7 linked regions of the Homo sapiens genome follow. The protein of the gene in region 2 purifies or fractionates together with the protein of the main gene of each other region. This does not show direct contact. Each region holds a gene or a part of one and is shown on either strand. Other genes may lie near its edges. The genes, in order: ERO1A, CBS, LRSAM1, CARS1, PARP6, UBE3B and TRAP1.

What was found.
Region 1: the proteins of CBS (region 2) and ERO1A fractionate together in Homo sapiens (co-fractionation; one large-scale study listed by BioGRID). This does not show direct contact.
Region 3: the proteins of CBS (region 2) and LRSAM1 fractionate together in Homo sapiens (co-fractionation; one large-scale study listed by BioGRID). This does not show direct contact.
Region 4: the proteins of CBS (region 2) and CARS1 fractionate together in Homo sapiens (co-fractionation; one large-scale study listed by BioGRID). This does not show direct contact.
Region 5: the proteins of CBS (region 2) and PARP6 fractionate together in Homo sapiens (co-fractionation; one large-scale study listed by BioGRID). This does not show direct contact.
Region 6: the proteins of CBS (region 2) and UBE3B fractionate together in Homo sapiens (co-fractionation; one large-scale study listed by BioGRID). This does not show direct contact.
Region 7: the proteins of CBS (region 2) and TRAP1 purify together in Homo sapiens (affinity purification with mass spectrometry, with the first as the bait; one large-scale study listed by BioGRID). This does not show direct contact.

What each region holds. Positions count from the first base shown.
Region 1 is NC_000014.9:52,653,800-52,657,805, forward strand, and holds part of ERO1A (ERO1-like protein alpha isoform 2 precursor), read right to left. Parts: intron 1-4,006. UniProt on the Homo sapiens protein: Oxidoreductase involved in disulfide bond formation in the endoplasmic reticulum. Efficiently reoxidizes P4HB/PDI, the enzyme catalyzing protein disulfide formation, in order to allow P4HB to sustain additional rounds of disulfide formation.
Region 2 is NC_000021.9:43,072,857-43,077,302, forward strand, and holds the start of CBS (cystathionine beta-synthase), read right to left. Parts: upstream 2,980-4,446; 5' UTR 2,914-2,979; exon of another isoform or gene 1,647-2,913; intron 486-1,646; 5' UTR 410-485; intron 1-409. UniProt on the Homo sapiens protein: Hydro-lyase catalyzing the first step of the transsulfuration pathway, where the hydroxyl group of L-serine is displaced by L-homocysteine in a beta-replacement reaction to form L-cystathionine, the precursor of L-cysteine.
Region 3 is NC_000009.12:127,458,010-127,461,509, reverse strand, and holds part of LRSAM1 (E3 ubiquitin-protein ligase LRSAM1), read right to left. Parts: intron 2,508-3,500; coding exon 2,439-2,507; intron 338-2,438; coding exon 253-337; intron 1-252.
Region 4 is NC_000011.10:3,015,418-3,019,423, forward strand, and holds part of CARS1 (cysteine--tRNA ligase, cytoplasmic), read right to left. Parts: intron 3,851-4,006; coding exon 3,722-3,850; intron 3,333-3,721; coding exon 3,203-3,332; intron 3,124-3,202; coding exon of another isoform or gene 3,095-3,123; coding exon 2,991-3,094; intron 2,538-2,990; coding exon 2,440-2,537; exon of another isoform or gene 2,439-2,439; intron 1,879-2,438; coding exon 1,689-1,878; intron 433-1,688; coding exon 364-432; intron 1-363. UniProt on the Homo sapiens protein: Catalyzes the ATP-dependent ligation of cysteine to tRNA(Cys).
Region 5 is NC_000015.10:72,265,668-72,269,673, forward strand, and holds part of PARP6 (protein mono-ADP-ribosyltransferase PARP6), read right to left. Parts: intron 2,005-4,006; 5' UTR 1,811-2,004; coding exon 1,808-1,810; intron 1,156-1,807; coding exon 1,078-1,155; intron 325-1,077; coding exon 230-324; intron 1-229. UniProt on the Homo sapiens protein: Mono-ADP-ribosyltransferase that mediates mono-ADP-ribosylation of target proteins.
Region 6 is NC_000012.12:109,518,882-109,522,887, reverse strand, and holds part of UBE3B (ubiquitin-protein ligase E3B), read right to left. Parts: intron 1,741-4,006; coding exon 1,564-1,740; intron 1,448-1,563; coding exon 1,337-1,447; intron 1-1,336. UniProt on the Homo sapiens protein: E3 ubiquitin-protein ligase which accepts ubiquitin from an E2 ubiquitin-conjugating enzyme in the form of a thioester and then directly transfers the ubiquitin to targeted substrates.
Region 7 is NC_000016.10:3,672,391-3,676,396, reverse strand, and holds part of TRAP1 (heat shock protein 75 kDa, mitochondrial isoform 1 precursor), read left to right. Parts: exon of another isoform or gene 1-251; coding exon 252-361; exon of another isoform or gene 362-999; coding exon 1,000-1,073; exon of another isoform or gene 1,074-1,902; coding exon 1,903-2,058; intron 2,059-3,576; coding exon 3,577-3,697; intron 3,698-4,006.

The sequences.
Region 1 (4,006 bases), on a different chromosome or scaffold from region 2:
TCTGAGTTCTGCTTAAACATTTAAAAAAATTTGTTATGTATTTTTCTTTGAACATGTGGTCTCTCTGCCTGCAAACATACAGAATTTTAGTTCTGATTTACATAGAGTTAGCTATGCACATATATTACTCTAAAAATAGACCTTAGGTGCAAGAAAATTATAGAGTAAGTGTGTTTGGGTGAGTATGAGTTTATACCTGTTTTCAGAAGAATAGAGCAATATTGGAACAAAACAAATATCTTAATAAGGTGACAAATTTACTAGAAAACTGAAAACCTCAAAAATGCTGAAAGCAAATCTATACTCTGCTTTTTATTAAATTCATTACTGTAAAATCTTCTGACTTATGATTCAGAATCTCCCCATGAACATTTTCTGTTTTTCTTTGCCTGGTTCTCATGCTAGACTTATAATTTTCTTGTCTCTTATAATTTTTTTCTTTTATAGTTTATGAGGTATTATGTGAGCTGGTCATGACTAATAAGAATGATTTTTATAAAATATAGTAGTGCACACAAAACAATTTTTAGATGTATTTCCAAAATTGTGTATTACATTTCATTTAATTAGGACATTCCATTTGTTCTTTTAATTAAAGAATTCTACATAAGCCTGTATTTTTTTTTACTTATTTTATTCTCATTATAATTGACATAAGTAAATTTATATGTTTATTGAGCCAATTTGTTCAGGTAAGAACTAGGGATGCTTCAGAAGTCATGAGGATGTTTTTTATATATAAATGTAGCAAACAAACACACAGTACTTGCTGTGTAACGGATGCTCCATGATAAGCCATAAATATTCCTGCTACAGTTAGTTTGTAAGTTCAAGTCAGAGAAGGAAAATATCAATAGTGAAGAAATAAGATTGATTCTTCATGTGGAGATAACATTTTTCCATGCTGCAAAGCTAAATCTTGCTGAATTTTAAGAGAAATTCTGTTTATTTCCTAGTTATCTTTAGTTTTGTTTGTCCTATTATGTGTCTTCTAACTGTGTATTCATCACAGCCCTTCTCCTTCTTTTTCTATGTGATGGCTACAGTTTTCTCACTGTTGTCTTCATGCCATGTCATTTTACATGGTACTTTGTAGGTTTTGATGAGAAAGTTGGTATTTATTTAATGCATTCAAAAATTGGTTTTAACTAGAGAGTTTGCTTATCAATATAACTTTCAAATCAGTTAAGATAAAAGGCAAACCTGTCCACAGGTGAGAGGATTAAGTAACTTAGCATTGTTTTTCTCTGTTTGTAAAAGGAAAATCTTATTAAATTCTTACACAGGCCAGGCGTGGTGGCTCACAACTGTAATCCCAGCACTTTGGGAGGCCGAGGCAGGTGGATCACGAGGTCAGGAGTTTGAGACCAGCCTTACCAACATGGTGAAACCCCACCTCTACTAAAAATACAAAAATCAGCCGGGCGTGGTGGCACATGCCTGTAATCCCAGTTACTCAGGAGGCTGAGGCAGGAGAATTGCTTGAATCCTGGAGGCAGATGTTGTAGTGAGCCAAGATTGCACCACTGCACTCCAGCCTGGGCGACAGAGCAAGACTCTGTCTCAAAAAAAAAAAAATTCTTACACAAAGTGTGACATCTATCTAATTTGCTAGAAAATATATCATAGAAATTAAAGTATTAGGAGAGTTAATGGTAAGTGAATAATTTTAAATTTAATGTTCTATGATACACTTACAGCACATGTTTCCATGTAGAATCTTTTATTTTTAAGTGTGAATGTTAAAGGCTGCAAAATAATAAAATGATCTCTGTGGATTTGAAATCTGGAATAATATTTCTTTTCCATATTGATATTACAACTCAGAGGAATTTCTCACTCTTATTTTATGTGATTTTTTTTTTTAGTGGGTGAAGGTGTCTACAGCTTATATTCTTAGTCACCTAACTGTAGTCAACTTCTTGGTCATTTTCTCTGGAAAAATTCTGAAGATCATGGCAACTTTTAGATTAAACCATTTTCTGGGTTTTTTTAATGCAAACTTGTTTATTGTGTTCACAAAGTGGCCAGTCATAAGACCATAAGCAACGCCTGCCCTTTCAGTGGCTTTCATACCATTACCATCTGTAATCAATAAATGTATATTTATTTTGTAAAACATAATGTTTGGAAGTATATATACATTGTTAAATGCTTAATTCTAGGTAATTACGCCACATAGTTAACATTTCTGTGGCAAGAGCAAGTGACATTGTCAGCATTTTTCAAAACTACAAATACATTATTTTGATCTATAGTCACTACGCTGTACAAAAATATCTCTTGAACTTCTATTAACTATAATTATGTATTTTTTGATCAACATCTTTTCAAACCCTCCTGTCTCCTAAATACCTTGGTGTCTGGTGGCCACCACTTTACTCTCTACTTCAATAAGATTAAGTTTTTTAGAATCCCTTTGTAAGTGAAATCATGAAATAATAATCTTTGTGTCTGGCTCATTTTGACAAATATAATGTCCTCCAAGTTCATTCATGTGATGGAAAATAATAAAATTTCCTTTTTTAAAGATGAAAAAAAATAATAGTCAAACTTCTGAATATAAACATATTCATAAAACCTAAACACACAATTTGAAAATGATGATCTAAAATTACTAATGAGTTTAGGCCAGGTGCAGTGGCTGAAGCCTGTAATCCCAGCACTTTGGGAGGCCAAGGCGGGTGGATCACCTGAGGTCAGGAATTCGAGACCAGCCTGGCCAACATGGTGAAACCCCGTCTCTACTAAAAATACAAAAAATTAGCTGGGTGTGGTGGCATGCACCTGTGGTCCCAGCTACTCAGGAGGCTGAGGCAGGAGAATCACTTGAACCCAGGAGGCAGAGGTCACAGTGAGCCAAGATCACACCACTGCACTCCAGCCTGGGTGACAGAACAAGACTCTGTCTCAAAAAAAAAAAAAAAAAAACAGTAAAATTACTAATGAGTTTAAACCGCCATTTAAAATCAAAGTTACGGCTAGGCACAGTAGCTCACGGCTATAATCCCAGTACTCTGGGAGGCCAAGATGGGCAAATCACTTGAGCTCAGGAGTTCAAGACCAGCCTGGGCAACATGGCCAAATCTTGTCTCTACAAAAAATATTGTGAAAAATTAGCTGGACATGGTGGCATGCTCCTGTAGTCATGAGGTAGAAGGTAGGACTTGGCTCAGGAGGTGGGACTCAGGACACTGGACCAAATTGAAAACTAGCTAAAACAGGGAGGGGGCTGAAGCAGCTTTCCATGAGGCACACCCACCAGGGTGCCATGTCAGTTTCTCATTCCCATGGCAACATGCAGAAGTTACCACCCCTTTCCATAGCAATGACCCAGAAGTTACTACCCTTTTCCTAGAAATTTCTGCATAATCTGCCTCATAATTTGCATATAATAAAAAGTGGACTATAAATATGGCTGCAGAACTGCCTCCAAGCTGCTACTCTGGGCACACTGCCTATGGGACAGCTCTCCTTCATGAGGAGAGGTTCAAACTTTTTCCTGGGCAAAGCCAAGTGCCCTCCCAGGCTAAGCCCCAGTTTTGGCCATCGCACACTAGAGTGGGCAATAGAGTGAGACCCTGTCTCAATCAATCAAGCAATCAATCAATGAATAAAATGGAAGTTTCTATATTTTGTTTCTCAGAGTGTGATACTTTAATTCCAGAAGAAATATGGTACTGATGAAAATCAACCACAGTCTCATTTTCAACAGTATTAAGGCATCAACAGCAGCAGGAAAGGCTTTTACCCATTTAAACTCCAGGCCTGATACGAGCACACAAATAAAAAGGTTCTGATACAACAATATCTATCAAATAGCAAACTGTGCTGTTAGGAACTATTTAAATTCCCACAAGAAAACAAGAATATTTCCAAAGTGATATGGACAATTTTGAGCAGCTTCTTAAAAGAAGGTGAAGAGAGCTAAGAGTATGTTAAACTGTTCAATTGTATCTACAGTTCCCACCTTTCTGATTACTACCATTTAAGAGTGAATTTTTAC
Region 2 (4,446 bases):
AAAGTAGAATAGAAGCGGCCAGCGGCTGAGGTGAGTGGGGAAGGGAGGGTGATTGTTTAATGGGTGCAGAGGTTGTGCTGGGGATGATGAAAACGTTCTGGGTGGAGATAGTCACGGTGGTTGCCTCACACTTAGAAATGGTTACAGTGATCAGTGTTACGTGTATTTTACCCAGGATTAAAAACACACACACGCACCTGAAATAGATGAGACAGAAAAAAAAAAGAAGAAAGCAAAAAGAAAGCCAGGCGAGGTCCCATCTGCTGCCCCTCCTCTGGGGGGACAAGGAACCCACGACCACCTCCCACCTTGCCTTCTTCAGAGGGCCCAGGACTGGGCTCAGCCCCGCTTCACCCTCCTTTGATTCCCCACATTCAACAGGAAGACTAAGTCCACAGCCGTCACTCACCGGACAGATGGTGCTGACAGTTCAGCACCGCTCAAACTCTGTAAGGAGACGTGACAACAGAATCTGTCATGGGATCCTGGAATAGAAAAGGGCAGTGAGGAGAAAACTCTGCAAATCTGACTCAAGCGCGGACTTTGGTTAATGTCAACAATGGTTATGTGATCGTGGAATTGGCTCATTAATTGTAACAAATAGGCCGGGCGCGGTGGCTCACGCCTGTAATCCCAGCACTTTGGGAGGCCGAGGCGGGCGGATCATGAGGTCAAGAGATCGAGACCATCCTGGCCAACATGGTGAAACCCCGTTTCTACTAAAACTACAAAAATTAGCCAAGCATGGTGGCGCACACCTGTAGTCCCAGCTACTCGGGAAGCTGAGGCAGGAGAATCGCTTGAACCCGGGAGGGGGAGGTCAGTGAGCCGAGATCGCGCCACTGCACTCCAGCCTGGCAACAGAGCGAGACTCCGTCTCAAAAAATAAAAATAAAAATAAAAATAAAAGAAAATAAATAAAGTAACAAATATACGACATCAGTTTAAGATCTTAATAACAGGGGAAACTGGGGGAACTCTATCTATTTTTTCAATTTTTCTAAATCTAAAACTGCTCTTTTTTAAATTTTCGAGACGGAGTCTCCCTCTTGTTGCCCAGGCTGGAGCAGTGGTGCGATCTCGGCTCACTGCAACCTCCACCTCCCGGGTTCAAGCAGTTCTCCTGTCTCAGCCTCCTGAGTAGGATTACAGACGCCCGCCACCACATCCGGCTAATTTTTGTATTTTTAGTAGAGACGAAGTTTCACCATGTTGGCCAGGCTGGTCTCGAACTCCTGACCTCAGGTGATTCGCCCGCCTAGCCTCTCAAAGTGCTGGGATTATAGGAGTGAGCCACCCCGCCCGGCCTAAAACTGCTTTTTTTTTAAAAAGCCTATTAAAAAAGAAAAAGTTGCGGAAGCCGGCTGCCTTTGGAAGCCCTTGGAGTATGCTGTTCAGGTGGTCTCTGCGCACAGGCCCTACCCAGGCCTCAGCTTGGCCTCCTGGACTTCCCAGCCTCCCCTCCACCTTTGCAATTCACCAGACTGGGGGCCAAAGCGGCTTCAAACGACCCTGGAGGGTGGTGCTTTCAAGGTCTTGGGACCACGGACTTGTCTGAAAATCCGAAGGCGTTGGATCTTCTCTTCCCCAGAAAAATGCACCCGCTTTCAGAGGTTCGTGTCCCACGCTTTTCTTTCTATCCCAACCTTGTAAGAAGCCGCCGCCGTGAGCGGAGCAGCACCTTCCTCCGCGGGTCGCGGGAGTCACCTACGGGAAGGGACTCTCCGTCTGGCACAGGCCCTGTCTGGCCTGGGGCGCGCATGCTCCGCCGCCGAATCTTCCAGAAAGCCGTGGACCCGAGGCCCCGGCAGACGCAGGCGGCCCAGCGCCTTGCTTTTGGCCCCTCGCCTCGCCCTGGAGCCCTCTCTCGCAAGGTAAGGGACTGCCGGGAACGCAGATCGCAAGCCGTCGGGGCTCTGTAGAACTCAGAGGCGCTCGGCGGAAAGCTCGCCAGGCGACCCAGACCCGAACCCGCGGGCTCCCCAAGACAACAGCGCCGGGCGGCCGGATGCACGTGCGTCCCGGGAAGGCGGGTTCAGCTGGCATCGCCTGGCCGGTTCCGTTCGCTCCTTAAACCACAAGACCCCCTTGGGGTCACGACGTTCCCGGGGCACCCCTGCACTCGCGCGCCAGCACTCCCGGAGGGGCCTGGGGAAGGCCACGCGCACGGAGAGCGGGAAACTCCTCTAGGTTTCCAGGTGGGAGATCCAGACCCTACTGAGACCCGGAAACCGCCGGCCACTCCGCCTCCGGAAGCGACACTTTGGGACAAAGCTGGGGACAAGTAAGCCCAGAAGATCCTCGGGAAGCCGAGAATTTCGCGCTCCGCTCTCCCACCCACGCTCCGCCTCCCGCTTGCATCCTACAGCTCAGCTGCGGTCTCGCCTGGGGCTCAGGGAAGTGAGGTCCCAGGAAAACCTCCATCCCCCGAACGCAACCTGGGCAGAGCCCCGCGTCCCTCCCCCAGCGGGCACCCACCTCGCGTGCCGCCCGCGCAACGACAGCGTTTACCGCCACCCCACACGGTCCGCCAAAAAGGGCGATTTGCAAACAGCCATTTCCCATCCACAATGCAGCGAACTCAATGCTGGGCACCGAAACGTGCATCTCCCCCGGATTCCCACCCCGCGTCCCTGCTCCACGCTCCAGGACTCGCCGCCAGTGGGGTCCACTCCGCCGGCGCGGGGGCTGGGGTGGGAGCCCGGGGCCACGTGCACGGCCAGCCCCCATCTTCTGGGCGGTCAAGACCGCAGGCGTGGGCGCCGGTGGGGCGGGGGTCTTGGGAGACCCTGTCTCGCCGCCTTTCGGTGCAGATGATGCAACTCTGGGCGGAGGCGCGGAGAGGGAAACCGGGACCCAGTTGAGATCCTCTGTCCAGAGAGGGGAGCGAGTCTCGGTGGGGCCGGATCTCACCTGGACGGATACATGGAAAAGAGGGGCGAGCGGCTGCCCCGACTGCGGCGAGGCGGAGACGGCGACCCCGGGGTGGCGGCCTCGCGGGGACCCACGGCGAGGGGAGCAGGCGGGCGGTGATTGGCGGAGAGGCGGGGGCGGAGGCCGGCGCCGGCCAATGTCTCGTGGCAGAGCACCCGCCCCCCCAGCCCCTCCTCCACCCCACCCAGCCCGGGCCCCTCCCCCCCACCCCTTCCCCACCCCGCCGCAGCCTGGGACCCTCCGGCCTGCCCGACCCCCGCCCTCCCCGGGACCCCGGCATGCCCCCACCCCAGTCCGCCCGCCCCATTCCCACGCCCTGTTGATTCAACCGCAGACCCGGGTCGCCGCCCCCTCCCCCGCCTTCCTCTTCGCCTGAGCCCGCCCGCCCCGGGTTCCAGCCACCCCCACCCGCGGACCCCGGTGGTGTCTTCTACCTGGTGTTCCGATGCTGTTTTACTTGGTTAACTTCTTGCCCTTCGGGAATTTAAGGAACCTTTACTGATGAGCTTGAAACGTGCGTCCTGGTGGGTGGGGGGCCCTGCGCGTCCTCGAGGACCGACCCCGAGGGCGTGTGTCGCGGGCCCGGGAGGGGGCGCCGCGCCGGGGCGGGACTCGATGGCCGCGCTCTGTGGCCGCCGGACGCCGTGCGCAGCGCCCCGCGTGACCGCGCCCAGAGCCGGGTCCGAACCCCGAGCCGAGGCGCAGAACAGTCGCCTTGCGCGGCTCCGGTGCGGCCCACGGCCAGGGGCTGCCGGGCGCTCTCGGGGACGGGGCCGACTCCGCGCAGGGTGGTAGCAGGGGCGCCCCGCGGGGCTCCTTCGCCAGGTCCCGGAGGCCGCGGGCGGGGCCGTTTCCCAAACATCGTGCTCTGGACTTTCAGAGGCTGAACCTGATCCCCCCGCCCTATGGCTAAATGGGGGATCCCAGGCCCCCGAGTCTCCCCCCGGACCTGCAGCGAAAGACACGGACGGTGCCCATCAGCTCTGGGCAGAGGAACGTGCTGCGCCTCCGCAGCGTCCCCGGCTCAGGTCAGAGCGATGCTCCGCAGCCTCCTCCGGCCCGCGCAGCTCCGCCGCGGTCTCTGCCACGTGGGGCTCACAGTAGGGGAGGGAGTGAGACGTGAATTAGAATTAAATGTCCACTGGCAGGAACTGACACGAAGAACAATAAAGCCGGCGATGTGGGGAGGGGACAGGGATGGAGTTACATCATGAAGGCTCTGGAAGGTGGCATTGGAGGCCGGGATCGCGCCACTGTCCTCCAGCCTGTGCGACTGAGCGAGACTGTCTCCAGAAAAAAAAAAAAAAAAAAAAAAAAAAAAAAAAATCCTGTCCAGTCTTTATAAGAAGAGAGACGTGGACACAGACACGCGGAGAGAAAAAGGCCATGTGGAGATGGCGGCAGAGATGAGATGTGCTGCCACCAGACGAGAAATGGCAGGGATGGCTGGCGGCCTCCACAGGGCTGGGAAAGGTGGCCAGGGCCTCCCTCAGAGCCTTCAGCCAGCCTGCG
Region 3 (3,500 bases), on a different chromosome or scaffold from region 2:
GGGGCCCAGCTGCCCTCCTCCCCATACGGCCATACGGCCCTGGCTCTCAGGAGCCACAGGAACCCTCCAGACAGCCTGTCTCTGGTTACCATGAAGACAGCTGACCCAGCAGGGGTCAGTCCATTTACAGCGACCCCCGGAGACTGGCTGCCCTCCTGCTCAATGGCTCCCGGGCGGGGCAGCCTGTGGATCCCGGCCAGGATGGCCCAGAGCTGATGGAGGGTCACACGGACACGGCTTCTTGGTCCCTACCTTTAACATTGAGAGTCTGGAGCTGGGTCAGGTTCCCAATGGAACGTGGGAGCTGCATCAGTTGATTCCTTTCCACGTTTAAGACCTAAGAAAGAGGAAGAGGCAGCCAGGCGCAGTGGCTTATGCCTGTAATCCCAGCACTTTGGGAGGCCGAGGCAGGTGGATCACAAGGTCAAGAGTTCAAGACCAGCCTGGCCAACATAGTGAAATCCCATCTCTACTAAAAATACAAAAATTAGCTGGGCATGGTGGCACACACCTGTAGTCCCAGCTACTCGGGAGGCTGAGGCAGGAGAATTGCTTGAACCCAGGAGGCAGAGGTTGCGGTGAGCTGAGATTGCACCATTGCACTCCGGCCTGGGCAACAGAGTGAGACTCCGTCTCAAAAAAAAAAAAAAAAAAAAAAAAAAGAAAGAAACAGGAAGAGGTGACACGAGAACCCACACACAGACCACAGTGATGACCCCCGCACCCCTCGCCCTGCCGGGCCAGGGCACCCAGGCACTACACACACAAGCTCTTATCTCCCCCTACCGGCCCTTGAGGAAGACAGAAATTCTTGTTTCCGCTGGAGACAGGAAAAAAACTGAAGCTCAGGGTGGCAAAGTCACGTGCTCAGGAGAGCACAGCCAGGCCTTGAACCCCTTCTGGCTGAGGTTCCAGCACTTACACCGACCACAAAATGCTCAGTAACTGCCCCACCATCAGGGAAGGAGGGAGAAGGGGACTACAGACTTGGGGATCTGGGGAGGCAGCACAGGAGGCTCTAGTTCCCCTGGCCTTAAGGAAAAGGCTGCCCTAAGGCCGTGTGATCCACCCAAGGCCTCAGGCCGGCAGTGGTGCTGGGACTGAACCAGGGCTTGTTGGATTCCGAAGCTGTGCTCCCTCCAGAAGGTGGTACCTCGAGGTGAGCAAGGCTAGCAGGATGACACACTAACCATTAAAAATAGATGCAATGGGGGCCAGGCACGGTGGCTAACACCTGTAATCCCAGCACTTTGGGAGGCTGAGGTGGGTGGATCATGAGATCAGGAGATTGAGACCATCCTGGTGAACATGGTGAAACCCCGTCTCTACTAAAATATAAAAAATTAGCCAGGCATAGTGGTGGGCGCCTGTAATTCCAGCTACTTAGGAGGCTGAGGCAGGGGAATCGCTTGAACCCGGGAGGTGGAGATTGCAGTGAGCCGAGATCACACCACTGCACTCCAGCCTGGTGATAGAGCGAGACTCTATCTCAAAAATACAAACAAACAAAAAATGATGCAATGGAAAGCTAAGTAGCCATTAAAAATAATAAGATGAATATTTGATGAACCAAAGGATGCTATGAGTTATTGTCAGGTATCCAAAAGTTACAAATTAGTGAATGCAGCAATTCTATAAAAATACACCTACTGGCCAGGTGCAGTGGCTCATGCCTGTAATTCCAGCACTTTGGGAGGCCAAGACGGGTGGATCACCTGAGGCCAGGAGTTTGAGGTCAGCCTGGCCAACATGGTGAAAACAAGTCTCTACTGAAAATACAAAAATTGTCCAGGTGTGGTGGCGTGTGCCTGTAATCCCAGATACTCAGGAGGCTGAGGCATGAGAATCTCTTGAACCCGGGAGGCAGATGTTGCAGTGAGTTGAGATGGTGCCACTGCACTCCAGCCTGGGTGACAAGAGTGAGAAAAAAAAAATACACATACAAAAAGTCCTACACCAAGGTATTTATTGTGGCTCAAAGTGGTACAATTGGTCAGGCGTGGTGGCTCACACCTGTAATCCCAGCACTTTGGGAGGCCAAAGTGAGTGGATAACTTGAGGTCAGGAGTTTGAGACCAGTCAGGCCAACAAGGCGAAACACCATCTCTACTAAAAATACAAAAACTAGCTGGGAGTGGTGGCACACACCTGTAATCCCAGCTACTAGGGAGGCTGAGGCAGGAGAATCGCTTGAACTCGGGAGGCAGAGGTTGCCTCTGCAACTCTGATGGCGCCACTGCACCCCAGCCTGGGCAACGCAGTGAGGCACTGCCTCAAAAAAAAAAAAAAAAACCCCAAAGGGCCAAGGGGAGGGTGGAGCTGGCACTGATTGCAGCCTGCTTCCACTGGCTGGAGCCCGGCCAGAACATTCCAGGCTTGAGTGACTGCCTGGTCTCACTAAGGCCATCCGAGGTGGGTTTCTGTTTCTGCAGCCTTACCTGGAGGGCAGTCAGCTGCCCCAGATCGTCAGGAAGGGCTGTCAGCTGATTATCGTGGAGATCTAGAACCTGCAGAAGAAAGACCCCTGTGAGTCTCCAAGTGAGAAAGTCCCTCAGACTCCGGGCTCCAGAGCGCTGAGGAGGGGCTGGGGCCACCTCACACCCCCAGTGCAGAAACAGAGTGCCTGCCACTCCTTTCCCACTCAGTGTTGATCATTCCCGCCTCATTTTCCTTCTCAAACCATTATACCATTTTCTTATTTTATGTATATTTATTTTTACTGTTAACTGAAAAACTATGCTATAAAACAGTATGCCTAGATACTAATATGTTAAAAAGAAACACTCCATTGTATAAATATGTAAGACTTTCAAATATGCGATAAAATATTGACAGTGGTACTCCACAGTGTAAAATTATAGATGTTTCCCCCTTTGCTTAACTGTACTTGCTAATTTTTAATTTAATTTTATTTTATTTTGTTTTATTTTGAGACAGAGTCTCACTCTGTCACCCAGGCTGGAGTGCAGTGGCACGACCTCAGCTCACTGCAACCTCCACCTCCTGGGTTCAAGTGATTCTCGTGCCTCAGCCTCCCAAGTAGCTGGGATTACAAGCACAAGCCAACATGCTCTGCTGGTGTTTTTTTTTGTTTTGTTTTGTTTTGTTTTGTTTTGTTTTTGAGACGAAGTCTCGCTCTGTCGCCCACGCCGGACTGCGGACTGCAGTGGCGCAATCTCGGCTCACTGCAAGCTCCGCTTCCCGGGTTCACGCCATTCTCCTGCCTCAGCCTCCCGAGTAGCTGGGACTACAGGCGCCCGCCACCGCGCCCGGCTAATTTTTTGTATTTTTAGTAGAGACGGGGTTTCACCATGTTGGCCAGGCTGGTCTTGAACTCCTGACCTCAAGTGACCCACCCGCCTTGGCCTCCCAAAGTGCTAGGATTATGGGTGTGAGCCACCACGACTGACTGCTAATTTTTTAAAAATGAAAATGCACAAAAAAGGCCTTGGAGAAATATTTATACATGTGCACACACAGGTACCCTCCATATCTATGGA
Region 4 (4,006 bases), on a different chromosome or scaffold from region 2:
CATTTACTGAATACAGGTCAGTATATGTGACGAAGTCATGTGTGTTCATGATGCCAAGTGGCCGCAGCAAAATGCAAATAAGCAGCGGCCTATGTAGTTGGGGTCCAAGACCAAGCTCATGGGACAGCACAATGGCAAAGTGCCCCAAACCAACAGTCACAACCAAAGCAGACCCTCCACACCGGCAGGGCAGCTGACCACACTTAGCACTCTCAGAGCCAGAATTGCCATTTAGCTCGAGGCGCTGTCCGGAAGGGTCTGGTGTGGGTGGGCAGACAGAGGAGGGGCAGTTCAGAGGGACACAGAGGGGTAGGGAGTGGGGAGGGAGCAGGTGCAGAAGGCAGGACCCTGCATGCTACTCACACTGAGGCTGGTTCCAGGCCCTCCGACCGGGAATCCCAGGGAGCTGTCCTCTTCTACGGCCCCAAAGATCTAGGAAAAGAAACAGATGGGACCTGAAGCTGCGGCAAGATGAAGGCGGCATGTGGCGAGCAGCTGTGAGCTGTGTTCCTCGTTCACGGGAGGGGGTGCCCCAAGACCAGGAAAGAGATGGAAGCAGCAGCTCCAGGAGCCCCAGAAACCCGAGCCTGAGGGTGCCCTCATTGCTCCAGGATGGCCCTGACTCACAGCTACCCTCTCCAGCTCTGTTTCAGCCAGAAGCCACTGGAGCCCAACAACAAGGAAAGAGGAGGAGAGGGGAGGGGAGTTGAGTCCAGGCCCTGCTGGCCTTTCAAGGTGCACTGCGGGGAAGGGCTCTGCACAGGATGTGTTCAGAGAGGAGGCCTTGTCCCTGGTTTTGCTTCTCTTTTTTTTTTTTTTTTGAGATGGAATCTCACTCTGTCGCCCAGGCTGGAGTGCAATGGCGCAATCTTGGCTCACTGCAAGCTCTGCCTCCTGGGTTCATGCCATTCTCCTGCCTCAGCCTCCCGAGTAGCTGGAACTACAGGAACCCGCCACCATGCCTGGCTAGTTTTTTGTATTTTTTTTAGTAGAGACGGGGTTTCACCGTGTTAGTCAGGATGGTCTCCATCTCCTGACCTTGTGATCCGCCCGCCTTGGCCTCCCAAAGTGCTGGGATTACAGGCGTGAGCCACAGCGCCTGGCGTGGTTTTGCTTTTCAAACTCCAAGATGGGAGTAGAGGGAAACGGAGTCAAAGGAAAGAAATAGCTCTGAGTAAGGACAACTATATGGATGTTACTTATTTTTGTCTGGTTTTGAGACAGGGTCTCCCCTCTATTGCCCAGAGTGGAGTGCAGTAGTGCAATCACACCTCACTATTCAACCTCCTGGGCTCAAGCGAGCCCCTCACCTCAGCCTCCCAAGCAGCTGGAAAACAGGTGTGTGCCACCACACCTGGCTAATTTTTAATATATTTTATAGACCCGGGATCTCACTATGTTGTCCAGGCTGGTTTTGAACTCCTGGGCTCAGGTGATACACTCACCTGGCCTCCCACAGTGTTGGATTATAGATGTGAGCCACTGTGCTCCGCTTATGGGTGTTATTTCTAACGCGTGAAAAGCACACCAGGAACCAAAGAGGACAGAAGCATATCTCCACGTCTCAGAGGTGCTGGGCACCAGGCACAGCACTGGGGGGCACCAGAGGCCTCTGTTCTCCCAGTCCTGGGGCCTGGCTCCTGTGTCCACACAGGCTGAGGGATACGCCTGCCTGGGGCCTGGCTTACCTTCAGCATATGGGTGAGGTACAGGGCGATGTTCTCCAGCAGAGCCTGGTTGGGCCTCTTCCTCACGGCTTTCCGGGCTGCCATATAGAGGTTGCACTGACTGACCAAGGCCCGCATCTCTTCCATGACGGTGCGGGTGTCAACATTGTCACAGAGGGCTTTGTGAATTGCTGTCTTCTTGTCATAAAAGCTGAGCAACAAAGAGGAAGGAATGTGAAGTCAGACCTGAAAACACACCATAGAAATTCCCCATGTGGCCAGGCGCAGTGGCTCACGCCTATAATCCCAGCACTTTGGGAGGCTGAGGTGGGCGGATCACCTGAGGTCGGGAGTTCGAGACCAGCCTGACAAACATGGAGAGACCCCCACCTCTACTAAAAATCTGAAATTAGCCAGGTATGGTGGCGCATGCCTGTAACCCCAGCTACTCGGGAGGCTGAGGCAGGAGAATCGCTCGAACCCGGGAGGTGGAGGTTGTGGTGAGCCGAGATCACGCCACTGCACTCCAGCCTGGGCAACAAGGGCGAAACTCCGTCTCAAAAAGAAAAAACAAAAAAGAAATTCTCCATGCACTTCAACACCCAGAGCAGCTCCCATTAGCAGAGCCGCCTATCCTGAATTAATTCTGCACAACGTACGACAGTGTCCCCAGCCCTTCCTCGACAGTCCAGGACACATGGTGGCCAAGATGCGAGGCTAGGCATAGAACATGGGCATGCTCAAAAACCCCAAAGAAATGGCACCACCTTACTTCTTATTCAGTTCTGCTTCTTCTTCTCCCCACTTCTCAAACTGACCAGTGATGTCAACAGGAGCGCGAAGGATATCTTTCACATTTAAGAAAAACTCCTGAAGTTAGAAAAATCAGTTTAACAGCATTTAGGCAACTTTTCCATCCTGAAATATCTGTTACAACTTTCTACTGCTGTGATTTTATTTTTGGTAAAAATCTGAAAGACCAGAATTACACAAGTGGTCAGAAAGAAAGGAAAAGATATTTCTTTGACAGAAACATGCTCTTGCTTTAGGTTTACAGATGCTCATTTGGTGGAAAGTACAAGTCAGAAGGACGTGCACTGCAGTGACTAGGAGGACGAGGCCTCTGTCCACTCTGCTGAGCCGTCAGCCATTTCAGGAGTGGCCCCGAGCCTGTTATACCCACTAGCATGGAGGTGCTTCCACCCATGTGCTGGTCTCCATTAGAGACATCGGGAGGCTGGTGCACCTATCACCACTGCACAAGGTGCCCACTGTGCAGGGGAGGCTGCTCCACCAACCTCCAGGAAGGGGCTGGGGACTCACATTCAAGAACTTCTCATATTGAAGCGCTGACTCCATGGTGTTGCTGGAGTAGTCCAGGGTGTCCTTCCACGAGTGCATGAGGAAGGCCAGCCGCAACTGCCGTGCTGTGGGGGGACACAAGACAGCCAACGCCCTTATTCTCCCGAGTGCTACAGCCATTACACATGTATGAGAAGGTGGTTGGGGGGTCTGTGGGAGAAGCCAGTGTATACCTGAGTGCTTTTTCAAGGCATCTTTAATGGTGATGAAGTTTTTTAGTGACTTTGACATTTTGCAGCCTGCAATGGTCAGGTGGCCTGTGTGCAGGAAGTACCTGACCCAGCAGTCGTTTTCAAAGTAGGCCTGCGTGGAAAGAGACAAAGGATGTCAACAGTCATGTGTTACTGGGGCCGCCTCCTGCCACCTGCACTGTCTGCTGCCTTGTTGGTGCTGTCCACAGGCAGGAGCTGCGTTTTCCAGGTGGTGCAGGCAGGGCTTGGAAGGACAGCCCAGGTTAATAAGCCAGCAGGTAACACAACTGGTTCAAATCCAGGCTAGTCTGTTGCCAAAGGCCAGGCTGTCAATGCGGAAACCACACTAAATGATCAGGGTTCAGATTCCACCCACAAGCCCCGATGAAGGTGTCAAGTTCTAGTGAGAGAGGCCCTTCTGAGGCCTGGGCTGACTTTTCCTCCACTGCAGTATGAACACTGTGCTCTTGCACCTGACAAGGGGACTCTGTTTTCACCTACCTCCGACTGTGCCAGCTCATTGTCATGGTGGGGGAACCGGAGGTCGAACCCACCTCCGTGAATGTCCATCGAAGCCCCTAGGAGGGTGCCTGCCATGGCCGAGCACTCGATATGCCAGCCCGGACGACCCTGGAGAAAGCCGAACACACAGTGACTGACCAGCCTACCCGCTTGTCCAGGCCTTTATCACTTATCACTCCAAGTTGATGGCCCTTACATCCTCTGAACTTTATTGGAACAAGCGTTAAATCCCGCACATGAAAAGACTAAGGGAAGGCTGGGCGA
Region 5 (4,006 bases), on a different chromosome or scaffold from region 2:
TACCTGAAAGGTGAAACTACTGGCCCAGAGGGGTCTAGGATAAGAGGGAATTCCTAAGAAAAGTGGCCTTACTCTCTACTCTCAGCCAAGCTCATTTATTCTGAGCATTTTCTATCATTAAGTTCATAATTTATCCCACTATCATACCATAAAAAGAAAAACCTCTAGCCTTTTAACAACTCAGAAAGAAGTGACTTGCTCCCCTGCCACCCCTGAAGTAGAGTCCCACCTGATGGATACAGAGTTCTCACTGTAGATCTCCTTCACGGCTTCAATGTCTGCATCAAGCTGTGGGTGTCGATACAGGTCAGCTGCACAGCTCCCCTGAGATAGCAGCAAAAATGGTGGTGGAGAGAGGTGGAAAAAGACGAGGGAAAGAGAGAGATAATAAAAAGAATATGAAAAGACACCAGGAACAGGAGAAATCAGACAGCAGTATAGGGGAAGTAAAAGCCACTTATGTGAAGGGGTTCTCAGTGGTGACCCTAGCAAGGGATTTCATTAACAGAGGTCTCCATCTCATCATGACTTTAAAAAGGTTCAGCAGACCAAATGTAGGCTTTTGCTTGGAGTTCACTTCCTTAAATCTCCAGCTTTTCTCTCAGACCTTGACCAGGATACCTTCTATGACAACTCAGAACAGGCTGAAGAGTTACAGGTTTCCTAAGATTGGTTCTAAGTGAAGAGCATTCTGAGAGTCTGGGTACTTCTGCTCAGGACTGTGCCCTGGGTAGTGATGGCATTAAGCAAACGCTGGCAGAGTAATCTTTTAAGATGTGACCCTAATGAATGAAACTACCCCCACTGGCTAGTGTTATAAAAGTCAGAAAATAATTATGTCTAATTAAGATATGGGTAGTCTCCACATACAGAGGATGTAGTTTACTCTGGAACAGGTATGACTCCAAAGAAAGAGCAAGGGCACGGGATCAGCTCTGACAAGACCATGCTCAGACCACATCAACATTATAACCTCATCTCATCTGTGCTCCAGAACCTCTTTCACTCCTGATGTATCCAAAAAGCAGCACATATCTAGACCATCCAACACGGGGGTCTTGGGAGATGTAACCTCACCTGAACGCCATAGAGAAATTCCTCTGATTCATTATCTCCCTCCGAGTCGTCATCATTCCAGAACTGGCCTTTGATGTCCTAGTGGTGAGAAATAAGGATATCATGCTTTGTTAGGTCCCTATTATCCCATGGAAAGGCGTGGGATGATATGGTGAGGAACAGATTCCCACAAAGATTGGGAAATATAGAATAACTGAAGCCCTGATCCCTTTACACCTTTCATGTCACCCTTTGTGAGAGTCTCAGTCTCTTCCTGATATGATCATATCCATAAACTAGCTCTTAGTGGGACAGAGGAAAACATCTAGGGAATTTTGGCCTTCTGAAGTCTCAGTATGATGACTGAGAGGCTCTGGTAGCCAGTAGGAAAGAAATGCAAATGACTTCAATGTCAAGGTTGACTCCTAAGCATATCTGGGTTCCAGTACAAGCTGGCCTCTTCCAGGATCATTACCTAAGACAGTTCCCAAGCACACCTAAACTCTCTTGTCTCATTATTTTCTTTCTATCCTTTAAAGTACTTAACTCTCCTCTCCCTCCCCAAGAAAACCCACTACACAAACACACCAAGTAATACTGTTTCTGTGCCCCTTCCCTTTCCTTTAACTTCAAATAGCCACTCTATCTTCCAAAAGGGTAGAAGGGAAAATACCAAGAAAGGGTGAGATCTGCACTTTGTCTCCTCTACCCTTTGAACAATCAGTTGGAGAGGTGGGCAGTCAGTTCTCACCATTGGGTCAGTGGGTCACACACACTCTCAGGTCAGTGCTAGGCAGCACCCCTCCATACCACTAGCCGAACCAAGGCCAACGAGATGGGCATTTAGGAGACCACAAAGGGAGACAAGGTAGGGCACGATGTCAGGGACAACTGGTGATCTGTTGGGGATGGCAGGCTCTGCTGTTGCGGTGGTAACAAGTCACTGTCCTGTGGAAAGTAGATAATAATGGGTTTCATCACCACTTAATAGCTGGGTGGTGTATATATACAGGCACACGTATTTATCAATACACTTTTTTTTTTTGAGACAGAGTTTCGCTCTTGTCGCCCAGGCTGGAGTGCAATGGCGCGATCTTGGCTCACTGCAACCTCCGCCTCCTGGGTTCAAGTAATTCTCATGCCTCAGCCTCCCAAGTAGCTGGAATTACAGGTGCCTGCTGCCACGCCCAGCTAATTTTAATATTTTCAGTAGAGATGGGGTTTCACCACATTGGCCAGGCTGGTCTCGAACTCCCGACTTCAGGTGACCTACCGGCCTCGGCCTCCCAAATTGCTGGGAATACAGGCGTGAGCCATTGCACCTGGCTATTAATACACTTTTATTATACATACAGATACTTGCATATAAAAAGACATGCTTGCGTGCATATACATGCACACTTGCACATGCAGTTCTTTATAGATAATGAAACACAAAAGCACTATATGCAAGATACTGCTGTTCTACTTAAACTGGAGAGCTGGGATTAGAGCAAGATCCTGCTCTAGCTCATAATGTTACAACTCCTAAAGCCAAAAGTGATGGTGGCAGGACAAGATGCTTATGTTTACTCTGTCAGTTAATTCTTCAGAGTACCAACTCACACCAGAGTTAAGATTCAGAATCGGATTATTTCTGGACTCTTTATTCTTAGTTATTTCTCCATATTAGCCAGTATCTCTCTTTAAACATCAGTATTACTAGCTATTATACGGCAACAATAGCTAACTTAAAAAGTCCTCAACGGCCAGATCACCTGAGGTCAGGAGTTCAAGACCAGCCTGACCAATGGGGTGAAACCCCGTCTCTACCAAAAATACAAACTTAGCTGGGTGTGGTGGCGTGCGCTTACGATCCCAGCTACTCAGGAGGCTGAGGCAGGAGAATCGCTTGAATCCGGGAGGCGGAGATTGCAGTGAGCCTAGATCACGCCACTGCACTCCAGCCTGGACAGTAAGAGCAAAAACTCCATCTCAAAATAAAAAGTCCTCAACAACACTGAACATCTTTTGGCAGTTATGGTCTCAGTTGTCATTGCCAAAATAATGCCCTAAAGTCATCTTGGAACCTGCTTCCCAAAGAAAAATGCAATAATTATCCCAAAAATTGCTTAGAAAAACTTTTACTTAACCCAGAGCCCTTTCATACACAATTCCCTGCTCGCTTCTAATCCCACAGACTCCTAATCCTATACCAGCAACTTTTAGCTCCATTAAAACCTCCACATATAGCAGAAAAACAAAACAAAACAAAAAACTCATCTGTGAAATTATGAAGGCTTTAATGGCTGAAGATGGCAAATCTACCCTAAAAGCAGGCTAAAAAAGCTTTCTGTTGCTCTCTAGACCAGCAAGTCACTGGCTTTGCACACATCGCAGCTGAAGCTACTCCAACCTCAAACAGAGGTGTTCTTGGTCTCTAACACAGTTCTTCTTCTTCTTCTTTTTTTGTTTTCTGACAGAGTTTCGCTGTGTCGCCCAGGCTGGAGTGCAATGGTGCGATCTCGGCTCACTGCAACCTCTGCCTCCCGGGTTCAAGCAATTCTCCTGTCTCAGCCTCCCACGTAGCTGGGATTATAGGCGCCCGCCACCATGCCCAGCTAATTTTTGTATTTTTAGTAGAGACGGGGTTTCACCAGGTTGGCCAGGCTGGTCTCGAACTCCTGACCTCAGGTGATCCACCCGCCTCGGCCTCCCAAAGTGTTGGGATTACAGATGTGAGCCACTGTGCCTGGCAGGTCTCTAATACAGTTCTACTGAATGTCAGGTTTCCAGATTAGTGATTCTCTGACTGGGGTTGGTGGACCTACAGCATCAGTATCATCTAGGAACTTGTTAGAAATGCAAATTCTCAGACTCCTCCTAAGACCTACTGAATTAGAAACTCCAGAAATGGCCAGGCACTGAGGCTCATGCCTGTAATCCTAGCACTTTGTGAGGCCCAGGTGGG
Region 6 (4,006 bases), on a different chromosome or scaffold from region 2:
TTAACTTTTTCAATGGAAATCAACTGAGAAATTGTTTCTATTATGCAGATGAGGAAACAGAGGCACAGAGAATGGGCCCAGGACCCAAATCACTGGAGGGCACAAGGAAGACTGGATGGTGTTTGGGCAGGGGCTCAGATGGGCCACCTGATTCCATCATGGCCAGGGACTGAGGCCGGTGCACATAGACTGTTTCCAGACAGAGAGAACAATGGATTATTCGAGAGTGAAAGGAGTTTGGCCCTGAGACCTCCCTCTCAGCTTGGCCCAGCTGCTGGCTCTTTCTGTTTGGAAAGCATCTGGCTTCTCCAGGTTCCTGGGGTATGCGAGGAGTGCTGCCCAGGTGGCTCGCTTCCTCCGTGCTTGGGCCAGAAGCTCAGCAGAGCCTGAGACCCAGGCAGGGTCCCTGCAGCTCTGGAGCCCACTGCGAAGGCCACACAGACTGGCTGGGCTTGTGCTGCAGCTTTCCTTCCTCCTGGGAAACAGGACTCTCCCAAGGAACAGGCGGTGACTTCCCACTGAAGGTGGTCCCACCTTGGCTTTCAATGGACGGGGTTTCAATGGACAGGAGCTGTGTGGGCCACATCACCCTGACCCCATCAGGCCACAGAGTGGAAACCCAGACTCACTTCCTCTTAGTAAGGTGAGGATGACTGCTCCGATCCACCTGGTGTGAGCAGCTGGCTGGGCACCGTAGAAGGCCCTCCTCACTTACCATTAACGGCAACCCAGGAATGTGGCTTTTCTTATCTCCACTTTACTGATGCGAGAACACGGCTTAAAAACTAAAGAAACTTGAAGGCACATGGTCACACGGCTGACTAGGAACAGCTGGTCCTGTCCTGTTGCCATGGCTGGGAAGCACTCACTCAAACAACACAAGATTTTAAAACTATCAAACTCCACAAAATGCTGCCCTCCTACAACGGGGACCCAGCCTCCGTGTGGCCATCTGGCTCTGCACACCACTCCTCATGCCTCAGGAAAGAAGAGGGCTGGCCTTAGGACTTGGGCCGGCCTGGGTTCAAATTCCACCTCTACCACTTAACTAGCAACGAAACTCTGGACAGGTGACTCCTCAAAGCTTCAGGTCTCCCATCCTTAAATAGCCAGGACAGTGGCAGCCCCGTCACAGGGCTGTCGATGGGATGAGATGAGATGCCACAGGCAAAGTACCTAGCACTGGTGTACAACAAACCTTGGTTCCTGCCCCTGTCCTCGCTTGTATCCTAGTGACAGTTTACATGGCCAAGCCTGATCACATATGTGTATGTGAAGAAGCCCATGGTACCGTTAACATTTTATTTTACATTTCTCTGTTTCTTAACGTTCCTACCTCATACACAGCCTTCCCCAGCATCTTCCCCACAAACTCGAAGAGCTGCAGGTAATTCTCATGGATGTAGGATGTGGGTGAGGGGTACAGCCTCTCATCCCCACTGGTTGTCTGCAAGGCAAAAAGACGGGGAGAGGCAGAGGTCAAGTGCCTTGCAAGGAGCAAGCCCAGCTCTTCACTTCTTGAATCTGGCTGCTGTCAGCCCTGCTGTTGCTCCCCTTAAATACCTTGAACAGATTGAGTGCTGGGTCAAAAACTCTCTTGATGATCTCTTCCAAGAACTCCTTAAAAACACCGTCTTGATCAATCCCTGCTTCGTCCACCCCGAGGTCATTGACAAACTTCACACGGATGACCCCCTTCATGGCGTGCTGGGAGAGCTGCCTAAGCTGCTCGTAGCCGTCCTGCCAAGAGCAGAATTACAGCCCATTAGGAAGCCCAAAGCCTTATGCACACAATTCGGGGTTCCCTCTCCTCTGTGCGAAGCTCTCCCAGCATCATTACCAAATGTGCAAATTATGAAACGTGGATGCATGACAGGAGCCGTTCTCACCTGCTTTTGAATGAGTGCTGATTAAAAGCAAAGATTCATTTGGGGATGTGACAGTATCACTCCTTGGCAAGGGGAGACTGACCTCAAGGGGACAGAGCAGTGAGATGGGGAAGTTAGACAAAATGAGTCATGACAAGCTCCTGGCCATCAGACAAAGGATGAAAGAAACCGGGACAAGATACATTTCTCTCTCTCTCAATGCTAAGAGTATCTTTAGCTCATGGTAAAAAAAAGAAAAAAGAAAAAAAAAAAAAATCAAACCTACAGAACACTGTAAAATGAAAAGAATTACCCATCACCCCTCATCTCCCGCTGCCTTCCCAATCATGAAGTGCCTGCAAGTCATGCTGAGGAATTTAGGGGACATCCTGAAGGTAATGGGAGCTGCAGAAGGTTTTAGGCAAAGAGTAACAGGGCTGACTTTCTGTCAGATCTTTCTATTGGCAGCAGAGCAGGTGGATGGCAGGGATCAACGCAGGGAGCAGAGACCGAGATGTGGGGGTGGTGCTGGGCCTGGACTTCTGGCTGGTGGTCAGCTCTGTTAGGACACAGCCATTCAGCACATCTACTCCATCCAGACCTCAACATGCACAGCCCCAGAACCACAACTTTGGAGTTCTCCTACTAAATCATCTGTTTAGTTTGTCTCTTGATTCTAATCTGTTGAGGCCTTCCTGGCTTCTGGTTCCATCATCTAATGCATTCCTAGTACTTGGGGTGCTGAGGTTTTTATTTCAGAGCAGTGACTATAAAAACAGTGCTGAACAGCACAGGGCCCAGGGAAGAGTCTGTTGGCCCGACTTGAGAGGCCCAATCACCAGGTGAAACTGATGTCTTCAGACACTGTGATGGAACAAGTGACCAATCAACCCTGCTGTCCTATGAAGGCCATGCCACATTTCTCCCTTTCAGCTACAACTGTAACACTGTCACATGCTTCGCAGGTTAGACAGGCTGTCTCCACAGCATCCACTCGGCTGCCGTCTGGTCCCCTCATCACAAAGCAAACGAGCAGTATGCCAGTGTGGCGAGACCTGTTTTGGGGAACCCTTGCTGCCTTCCTGCCATGTTCACCCAGTGATCCCCAAAGGACTATCCTATGGTGCCCCGATTCAGGGGTTAGGCTTCAAAGTTAGTGGGCAAGGGAAAATTACCTCTCAAGACCCCTAAGTCACATGTGGGAACAGGAGCACAGTTTTGTGGAGGCAAACCTGAGAAGGACTTTTTATGTACATAAAGTTTGAGAATCATTAAGTTAGATGACAAAAGGGAGAAACAGGAAGTCAACAGGCAGCTGTAACAGCATTTAAACCATTCTGCCTAAATTTAAGATAATTATCTTGGCACTGAGATGAGAACGGATGGAGAATTCCATCAAGTTCCTGTCTGCCTGCAGGAGTTCCTCCAACCTGCTTTAAAATTATGCCTCCCCAGCCTTCACACGCATTAGTAGATGCGTTTGTGGTTATGTGGATGAAATGGGATGGTACATGTGAAAGCAAGTGGCACATGGCCTAGCTCAAGGAGCGTTTACTGGATTCAAATCTCAGTCTTGCTTGATCAGCTCCACACCAGCCTCTTTGTTTAAACGTTTAGAGGGGACTGCCTCTTGTGATACATTTCCTGCCTTCTGGGAACTGGCGTGGATATGCGAGGATTATATCCATGCCTCTTGGGAGGTGAATGTGAGTCAGCGTTCCTCTTCTTCACTGCATCTCAACATGCACACACAGGGAATACTGAGCTAGAAAAGGGATGCCTGGCTTCCAGGCCCAGCTCTATCACTGATATCCAAGTGACCTTGACTGAAGTTCTCTGGCCTCAGTTCTGCCTTTGACAGAGACAGGGGAAAGGACTGGGTAAGAGTATGTTTGAGGATCCTTCCGGTTCTGAATACTAGAGTTCCAGCCCAAACTCACCCTCTGGGAAGAAGAGCCTTCCTACAGGACTTTAATATCTGGAAGCCTAATAGAGAAGCATAGCCCTCAATACTAACCATAAAAAAGGAAACAATGCCCAGGAGAGCATGAGTCTGAGATCAGCTTACTGACGCCCCCTTGTGTCCAAATCCAGCAAAGGCCCCTGGGCTCTCATATTCTAATAACCAAGCCACCAGA
Region 7 (4,006 bases), on a different chromosome or scaffold from region 2:
GTGGAGGACCCCCGCCCCCCCGCCCCCCGCCCGAGGGAACCAGGAGAACTCTGCCGCCTGCGACAGGCTCATCGTTCCTGATGGGCATGTGATGGCCTGAGTGGTGCGCTGGGGTCAGAAATGGGGCATTTGAGGTGTGTTGTGTGTTGTTTGGGCTCTGCCTATGAAACCCTCGGGAACCGCTGGAGTCCCATGCAGGGTATGTCCCAGTGTCACATCCACCTGGCTTTTCCTTTCTTTGCCTGCCTTAGTTCTGGAGTGTTTGAAATCGCCGAAGCTTCGGGAGTTAGAACCGGGACAAAAATCATCATCCACCTGAAATCCGACTGCAAGGAGTTTTCCAGCGAGGCCCGGGTGCGAGGTGAGCGGGAGCCCGGGCCCAGGCTCACTCTGGGATCCATGTGTGGCCTGGAGGCCACCAGGTCAGCAGGCATTTTCCCTGGTTCTACCTGCACGTAGGGTGCACAGGCAGAGCCGTGAAGGGCCGAGCCGCTGCGGGACTGGGAGGGGGGCTGCCCGCCAGGGCTGCGTAGCATCGAGCTCCTGCTGGGACTGGGAGGAAGCTGGCCTGGCTGAGGCGGACCTCCTCCTCCTTCCTCTGCGTGGCCCTTGGCCTTTAGTGCACCTGGGGGTTTGGCGCAGTCCTGTCCCAGGATGTGGGCGTGGCCTTCCCTCTTTGTGTCCTGCTGGACACTCAGGGAGGCCCTGAGTACCCCCAGGAGTCAGCCCAGAAAGCCATGTTCCAGCCACAAGCTGACATTGCAGTCTCGCAGCAGCCGGGGCCTCCACAGCTCTGGTTCTCACGTGGGCTCCGCTGCTGCCCCCGTGAGACTGGGGGGAGGACAGGTGTCCCCACTGTGCCCTGTTTCTGTACCTGTGAAGTGTACACAGCATGGAGGACCCTTCCCAGCAGGCTGGCGCTCATCCTGGAGCTGCTGCAAAGCTTGCGTTTCCACAAGCATTGTAGATGCAGTGTGGTTTTTCTTTTGTCCCTTCCAGATGTGGTAACGAAGTACAGCAACTTCGTCAGCTTCCCCTTGTACTTGAATGGAAGGCGGATGAACACCTTGCAGGTGAGCCCTGAGTTCCTCTAGGGACTGGTCAAACATGGAGACAAATCTGTACGTTTCAGGGCAGCGGAGAAGAGATGAGCCCAGGGGATGCGGCCCAGAGTCACAGGGCGAGCTGCTCTGTGGAGATGAGACCTGGGTGTGGGGATGAGACAGGGGCCCAGCTCTACCACAGCCCTGCCCCTGTGCACCGGGCAGCCGGGGTCAGGGGTCAGGGTTCACTGAGGCGTAACGCCCATCCCAGCTGGCTCACCACATCAGTGTGCAGCCATGGTGTTCAGTGCAGCCACAGAGCTGTGCAGCCACCCCGCATCAATTCCAGAACATCCCATCACCCCAAAAAGCAGCCCTTTCCCCACTGCCCCTCCCCCAGTCCCAGCAGCCACGGTCTCCTTTCTGTCCATTGTGCTGCCTGTTCCAGACGTTTCTCCTGGATGGAGTCACACGGCATGCTGTCCTCAGTGACTGACTTCCCCCTCGCGGCTCAGCTGCGGTGCAGCGTGGGTCGTCATCGCTCTCACGGCCCACACTGTATTCGTCAGCTCGCCCCTGCTGGGCAGCGTCATCCTCTCCCACAGGCCCCCTCAGGTCCCGGCTGGTCCTCCTGACATGTTGTCCTGAGGAGCTCCTGCCCCAGAGCCTTGTGTGTCTCCCCTGCACTACCCGGCATAGCCCAGCGGTGGGGCTGGAGAGGGGTCTACGCCTGAGACCACCGCCCGTCTGTCCCAGGAGCCTGTCCAGGGCCAGGCGCTGCACTGGCTCAGGCCTGCACGGTGGTGGAGAAGACGTGCGTGGTGAACACGACGCCCTCCCCGCCGATCTCCGTTTCCAGGCCATCTGGATGATGGACCCCAAGGATGTCCGTGAGTGGCAACATGAGGAGTTCTACCGCTACGTCGCGCAGGCTCACGACAAGCCCCGCTACACCCTGCACTATAAGACGGACGCACCGCTCAACATCCGCAGCATCTTCTACGTGCCCGACATGGTGAGGCACTGTGGCAGTCCCACGGCCCTCAGGGTGACTCTGTTGTCCCCTGTGGCATCAGCTCTGCAGATGTCACATGATTAACATGGCAGTGTGAGGGCATGAAAAACATAGGTAGTGCTGGGTGTGGTGGCTCACGCCTGTTATCCCAGCACTTTGGGAGGCTGAGGAGGGTGGATCACCTGAGCCCAGGAGTTGCAGACCAGGCTGGCCAACATAGTGAGACCCCATCTCTGAAAAAAAAGAAAAAAAGAACAGATGCCTCTGGGTGGGTAACCACAGAGGTTTCCTCTGTCTCAGGGGTCACACATGGCGAGGGAAGGATTGATGGGCATCTCAGTGCAGGCTGGGGTGGAGGCTTGTGGACTGGGGTGTGCCTGGGGAGGGCCCTCAGAGCCTACATCATCTGCTGTGGATCAGTGGATGCTGTCCTGCCAGGCGCTCTGGGAAGGGCCTGTGGTCTTGCCTCTCCGTTGGCCTCTCTGTGTGCTTCCTCCACACCCTCCACCTCCCCTGGTTTCCTTTACCACATTGAAGTTCCCGCAAATCCTGCCGTAAGGAGACCTATTCGGGGCTGAGAGCCAGCCCGTCCTGCCCCCAGGCTCTTCTGTCCTTGGCTGCCTGGAAACTCTCCTAATGTCCTGCACAGCTGGCATCCATCTTGGAAAGAGCCAGCCAGGTGTGGCCTCCAGGGGCTTGTTAGAGTCTCAGGCCCCACCCAGGGCTCCTGCGTGGGAGCCCACATTTTAATAAGATCTCCCCGCATTTTAACCGGATCCCCCCCATTTTAACCAGGTCGCCCCACATTTTAACCAGGTCTCCCAACATTTGAACTAGATACCCGCCGCATTTTAACCAGATCCCGTGATGAGGTGTGGGTCCCGGTTCGGGAAGTACCAGTGTGGAGCAGGTGTTGGCAGGCACGTTCCACGAGGGCCAGACAGGAGCTGGTCCCAGCGTTTCGGGCCCGGTGTCTTTCGTAGCCACTAACCCTGCCGGGTGAGGAAGCAGCACTGCCCTGCTGCCCTCTGAGCACACAGGGCCGGGTCCCATGAGCTGCGTAGACACTGAAATTTGAGTTTCATCTTCACGTCTCATGAGATCATCCTTTTTGAAATCTTTCCTCAACTGTTTGAAAGTGTAAAAACCACTCTTAGGCTACACAGAGGTAGGCAGTGAGCTGGATCTGGTCGGAGGGCTCTTTGCTGATCCCTGACCTGTAGCAAGGTTTGGCTGTGTTCAGTGTGTTCAGGGGTACGTGCAAGGTTCACTCTCTTGTGTCCTCCTTAGGGGGTGGGCTGGGGAGGGCGGCAGCTGCCAGAGAAGGCCTTCAGCCCCTGCAGAGCCACAGTGTGGGGCATCGTGGGGCCCCTGCACTGGGCTTCAACTCAGAGCAGACGCTGGGGGAGGGCGAGGCGGGAGTGGGCTCTGGATTCATCGTGTCCGCCCCCACCTCCCAGCCAGGGCCTGCCTGGGGAGGGTCAGTGCTGCATGATGGCGTGTTCTCCTCACCCCCAGAAACCGTCCATGTTTGATGTGAGCCGGGAGCTGGGCTCCAGCGTTGCACTGTACAGCCGCAAAGTCCTCATCCAGACCAAGGCCACGGACATCCTGCCCAAGTGGCTGCGCTTCATCCGAGGTACGCTGCTCAGAGTCCGTGAGCAGTGCCCCCGTGGCCCAGTGTCGCCCGCTGCATCTGTGAGGGACCGTGCTGATTCCATTCTCAGCAGCCCTCTGCAGCGAGAGCACCGCCGTCGGCCTGCGCTGCCTGTGTGTCAGTCGCGTTTACAGACCCCGGGAGCTGCCCCACCTCCCTACGCACATGACTGATCTGGGGGGAGCACTGGGGTGTTCAGATTGAGGTCTTTCCATATGTAGGGATACTGAGTTTCAGATTGATATGTGAGTTGTGTTACGTTTGAGTGAGATTATAGTTTAAGAAAGACTT